Linked DNA regions of Homo sapiens: region 1 is linked to region 2. The links come from fine-mapping of genetic effects on gene expression. A gene starts in region 2. The other region holds a variant in brackets. All regions are shown on one strand. Distances are between the middles of the regions.

Region 1 (2,899 bases), 680 kb after region 2:
TCTAACAATGGTTTGAGTGATAGACGGAAAAAACTCCAGTGCCTCAGCTACACAAAAGACTCTCTAGCGAGGTCCTATTGTGCATTGATTTACTGTGTTGAATAACTTTTCCACATTCGAAAATGCATTAAAGCTCTTATTTAGGACCATCTAATTCCTGTCTTTAGAGTTAACAATCAACCATCAGGTTTCTGCTTAGGGTAAGTTAAAACAGGCGTTTTGGTTGAGGACGATAAATACCTCTGCGTTTTAGGCTGCAGGTGCAGATGGAGCATTCTGTTCTAGGCATGTTGATTTAGGAGGAAAATCGGAGTTTTGGAACTTTACAGGCTTGGGTTACTTTCCTGGTTTTGCCATTTACTAGCTGTGCGACCTTGGGCTTGTCAGTAAAGGCCTTCGGTCTGCCCATCCTCTTTAGAAAAATGGAGCTACTTTTCCTACTTTGTTGGGAAGGGTTGTTGAGAAGTTTAATATTAATGGATGGCCTGGCACATAGTGGGTGCTCAGTAAACAGCTGTGTTTTTCCTATGGGGCTAGGGAATGTCTTTCAGGCTTTTGACATAGCCTGTTGCTGGGGTCGTATTGTGTCCGGAATTGGTGGGTTCTTGTTCTCACTGACTTCAAGAATGAAGCTGCGGACCCTCGCGATGAGTGTTACAGTTCTTAAAGGCGGCGTGTCCGGAGTTTGTTCCTTCTGACGTTCGGATGTGTTCAGTTTCTTCCTTCTGGTGGGTTCGTGGTCTCACTGGCTCAGGAGTGAAGCTGCAGACTTTCACGGTGAATGTTACAGCTCTTAAGGCCGCGCGTCTGGAGTTGTTCCTTCCTCCCGGTGGGCTGGTGGGCTCGTGGTCTCGCTGGCTTCAGAAGTGAAGCTGCAGACCTTCGCGGTGAGTGTTTCAGCTCATAAAGGCAGTGTGGACCCAAAGAGTGAGCAGTAGCAAGATTTATTGCAAAGAGCAAAAGAACAAAGCTTCCACAGTGTGGAAGAGGACCCCAGTGGGTTGCCACTGCTGGCTCGGGCAGCCTGCTTTTATTCTCTTATCTGGCCCCACCCACATCCTGCTGATTGGTAGAGCGGAGTGGTCTGTTTTGCCAGGGCACTGATTGGTGCGTTTACAATCCCTGAGCTAGACACAAAGGTTCTCCAAGTCCCCCCCAGATTAGCTAGATACAGAGTGTGGACACAAAGGTTCTCCAAGTCCCCACCAGAGTAGCTAGATACAGAGTGTCGATTGGTGCATTCACAAACCCAGAGCTAGACACAGGGTGCTGATTGGTGTGTTTACAAACCTTGAGCTAGATACAGAGTGCCA[G/A]TTGGTGTATTTATAATCCCTGAGTTAGACACAAAGGTTCTCCACGTCCCCACCAGACTCAGGAGCCCAGCTGGCTTCACCCAGTAGATCCTGCACCAGGGCTGCAGGTGGAGCTGCCTGCCAGTCCCATGCAGTGCGACTGCACTCCTCAGCCCTTGGGTGGTCGATGGGACTGGGCACCCTGGAGCAGAGGGCGGTGCTCGTAGGCGAGGCTCTGGCCGCACAGGAGCCTATGGAGGTGGGGGGAGGCTCAGGCATGGCGGGCTGCAGGTCCCAAGCCCTGCTCCACGGGAAGGCAGCTAAGGCCCTGCGAGAAATTGAGCACAGCAGCTGCTGGCCCAGGTGCTAAGCCCCTCACTGCCCGGGGCCGGTGGGGCCGGCCTGCCGCTCCAAGTGTGGGGTCCGCTGAGCCCACGCCCACCAGGAACTCGCGCTGGCCCGCAAGCACCGCGCACAGCCCCGGTTCCTGCCCGCGCCTCTCCCTCCACACCTCCCCGCAAGCTGAGGGAGCCGGCTCCGGCCTTGGCCAGCCCAGAAAGGGGCTCCCACAGTGCAGTGGCGGGCTGAAGGGCTCCTCAAGTGCCGCCAAAATGGGAGCCCAGGCAGAGGAGGCGCCTAGAGCGAGCGAGGGCTGTTAAGGGCTGCCAGCATGCTGTCACCTCTCAGTATGAATTTACCAGTTGGTAACGCATAGCAGGGAGAATCAGTGCACAATATTCACAGATTGCATTAGGGTTTAGATAGCTCTTCCAAGAGGTAATTGTTAAGCAAAAACCTTTTACTTTTATTGCAGTCTATTATTAGTATTGGAAGTCCTCAGTTAGATTTTCTCCCTGGTATGGAATGAAAACTTAATTCAAACACACACAGGAGAGGCAAACATGTTATTATTTGCTAATGGCTTTTAATCTTGGGAAGAGAGATAGATTGATTATCACCTCTGCCTTGGATAATTGGGGGAAGTGCTTCCATTTTGGAGAGGGTGATTTTTAAAGAGTTGAGAGTGGGGGAAGGCTGAGAGTCAAGAGCTGGTTAGGAGTCGTGCCTGTGTGATTTTGGTAACTTAAGCTTCTAGAGCCTCAGTTTCCTCACTGAAGAATGTGGCTGACAATTGTACCGTACTGCCCATGCCACTGTGAGGATTAAATGAGCTAATAGACATCATGGGAACAATTGTTGGTTTTTTTTTTTTTTTTTTTTGAGACTGAGATTAGCTCTGTCGCCTAGGCTGGACTGCAGTGGCACGATCTCAGCTCACTGCAACCTCTGCCTCCCGGGTTCAAGTGATTCTCGTGCCTCAGCCTCCCAAGTAGCTGGGATTACAGGCACCTGCCACCACGTTTGGCTAATTTTTGTATTTTTAGTAGAGACAGGGTTTCACCATGTTGTCCAGGCTGGTCTCAAACTCCTGACCTCAGGTGATCTGCCCTTCTTGGCCTCCCAAAGTATTGAGATTATAGGCATGAGCCACCACGCATGGCCTGTTTTTGAGGCAGGGTCTCGCTCTGTTGCTTAGGCTGGAGTACAGTGGTGGGATCTTAGCTTACTGCAATCTCCGCCTCCTGGGCTCAAGCCATCCTCCTGTC
Region 2 (2,899 bases):
GGCCAGGCCGGTCTCGAACTCCTGACTTCAAGTGATCCGCCCGCCTTGGCCTCCCGAAGTGCTGGGATTACAGGCGTGACCCACCGCGCCCAGCCTCCAACCTCACCCTTTATCAGTCTCCTCCTACTCGATCTACTCCAGCTACAATGACCTTCTTGCTGATTCTTGAACATATTTAGCTTATTTCCACCTTAAAATTTCTACCCATCTGCCCAGAAATCTTTCCTTGGATTTCCAATAGCCAGCCCTTTCTCATTCCTCAGGGGTCTCAGCTTAAATGTTACCTCCTGAGATTCCTTCCTTAATCATCTAATACGAAGAAGTCCCCACATCCAGTTATTCTCTTACCTCAGCATCCTGTTTATGTTCTTCTTAGCATCAGACTCGGGCTTTTTCCTGTTTATTACCTACTTCGTTTTCCTGAAAGATCCATGTGCCGGTACCATGTGTTGTTCCTACTGTTTCTCCAATGTCTAGTAGATTTGGCACATACTGATGTGCAATTAATACGTGAATGAAGAACCATTGACAGACGATTAGTCAAAAGCTCTTGCAAAGCCCTTTGATAGGTTATCGGTGGAGAGTAGGGAGCACAAACCTGGGGTCCCATTCTAGCTTGACCACTTCTCGGCTGTGCACAAACTAGTCTAGCTCTCCTGAGCCTCAGTTACCTATTTTGCAAATTAGGGATGGGAACATCCATACCTCACGACGCCAAACGGCTACCTTGTAAAGACGAAAGGAGGAAATGCAGGAAATAACTCCACGTAAGGTTAATGCTCCGTAAACAGAGCTGCTACTGCTATTATATATTCTATACAATCCTGCGCCCTTAACGGCAGGACCCTTTCAGTGCTTCAGTCCTGTCTTCTCTCTCCTGGGTTGACCTCCACAGATCCTCTCAGAAGAGCGTTTTCCAGGCGTGAATCTCCGCAGAGTGGAGATAAAGGCTGAGGCCCCAACGCACGCGCACTCACGCGAGTCCGGGCCTATGACGTCATTAGCGCAGCGCCATCGCCGCGGAAGGCCCAGGGGCCTGTCCTGTATGCGGCGTGTCTTAGGGAGGCCCAGGCGGACGCCTGCAAGTCGGGTGCGCGGTTCGGGGGCGGCTCGGAAACCCCAGCGGAAGGCAGCAAGGGGCGCGTGGGGCCGTGGAGTCACGAAGCTGGGCGGCAGGAGGGGCGGCCTGGAGCTCCCGCGGGGCACAGCGCGTGCGTGAGGGCGGCCGGCGGGGCTGCCCGGCGCGGGTGTCCCGGCGATGTGTGGCGCTGAGGCGGCGGCGGGAGCAGCGGCGCCGAGCTCTGCTTCGGCTTCGGCTTCGGCTTCGCGGCGGTGCAGGCGGCGGAGGCGGAGGCGCAGGCTCTTCTTTAGGACCTGGCGAGCCCAGGTCTAAGCGGCGGCCCCGCGAGGCCCTTGCACGGCGCCCCGGGTCGAGGCCCTCCCCGCCTCGCCCTACCCCAGGAGCCTGCCTCCCCAGCTGGGGATGAGGCTAGGAGGCGGCCGCGTGGGGCCCAGCACAAAGACCTGTCCCCAGGGGCCGCCGCCTCCGCCGCTGCTGCTGCCGCCAGCCTAGAGCCGCCCGCCGAAGCAGAGCCGGCGCCGGGGTCCTCATCCCCACCGGTCCCGAGGGGCGGCTGCTGCCCGTCGCCACGAGGCCCAGGGGCCCGAGTGCCGAGCCCTTTGCTCCCTCGGCCGCGCGGGGACAGGGCTGCTGAGCAGCCTCCGCCTCTCCCGGCTGTGGGGGCCCCACTGAGTATGTCGGAGGAGAGCGACATGGACAAAGCCATCAAGGTAAGGGGGAGGTGCCCCCTCTTCCCCCGCGTTGTCCTGTGGCGTTCTTCTCGGCTCTAGCCTCAAAAAGCAGGGAGATTTTGCAGTGAGAGGTTCCATCGACTACCGGGTTTCGGCCTCCCCCGGATTCCGTGGATCGCGCTTTACAGCCCTGGGGCCAAGGGTTATGGGTGTGGGTGTAGGTGTGTGTCCGACTCCCGCCAGCTTCCCTGGTGAGTGTGATTTGTGCTCAGCTGGAACAGAGGTGAGTGGCCTGGAGACACTATTAAGTGTCAATGAATGGGACGAAGAGAGCCCTACTACTACTACTACACGTTTCGATCACTCCCCAAGGCCGCCAGCATTTGCTTCCGGATGGTCTACAGAACTTGGAGAGTTGGAATTTATCCATCCCTCCCGATTTGTTTGAAATCAGCCTTCTGGAAATCTGCAGTTGGAAAAAGGTGGTTCGCCGTACAAAACCTGTCCTTTGGGGAATAGGTTGTCCTCACTTTTCCGTGTATTCTCCCCTTTTTCTTTTTCCTCTTCTTTCTCCTAGGAAGCATTGAGTTTACTTAGGAAAAGTTAACAGTTCCTGTGACTTAACTGCACTTAAACCAAAAGAAAAGCAAATGTGTGTTCGAAAATTACACAAATAAAATAAGTTTTCTAAAACCTGTTTTTAACTTTTTTTTTTTTTAAAGGCACATTTTGCCCACTCAGGGCCAGTTATCTGTCTTGACAGCTGTAGCTAAGAAATTAGTCTTATGAAAATTAAACATTGACGCTTAAAGTTTGATGTATTATTTACTTATTTGTAGTGTTAAGTCAGCCCAGTGCATTGAATAATTTCATTTTATCTTGAAGGACAGGCATCTATTGGCAGCTTGGGGTTATTTTCCCCTTCAAGACAGTTACTAGTAATGATTAAGAATTTACATTTCTACCAATTCTTTAGGTGGTGTATATAGTTTCTCAAAATCATCAAGTCATTCCAAAGAAACTTAACCCTTTAAAGGAGGCATCAACATATAACATATACATTAAGGAAGACCAGGTTTTTTGTCTGTTTGTTTGTTTTTGAGACGGAGTCTCACTCTGTCGCCCAGGCTGGAGTGCAGTGGCCCGA

Evidence for each region. PIP is the estimated chance that this variant, and not a neighbour inherited with it, causes the effect. A credible set is the group of variants that fine-mapping cannot tell apart.
Region 1: its variant is the best candidate, but not a certain one, in a credible set for the expression of MAPKAPK5 in tibial artery (GTEx, PIP 0.65).

The regions. Positions count from the first base shown.
Region 1 is chr12:112,518,478-112,521,376 of GRCh38, forward strand. No RefSeq gene overlaps it. Among named protein-coding and RNA genes, the nearest start is that of PTPN11, 100 kb to the left of the region's middle. The variant G/A (reference allele first, on the strand shown) is at 1,314.
Region 2 is chr12:111,840,979-111,843,877 of GRCh38, forward strand. It overlaps MAPKAPK5 (MAPK activated protein kinase 5), which reads left to right and starts at 1,250. Exons shown (of 14, transcript NM_003668.4): 1 at 1,250-1,791. The coding sequence starts at 1,756. It overlaps MAPKAPK5-AS1 (MAPKAPK5 antisense RNA 1), which reads right to left and starts at 2,027. Exons shown (of 2, transcript NR_015404.2): 1 at 349-2,027. RefSeq lists enhancers at 826-1,105, 1,836-1,935 and silencers at 1,136-1,315, 1,396-1,745.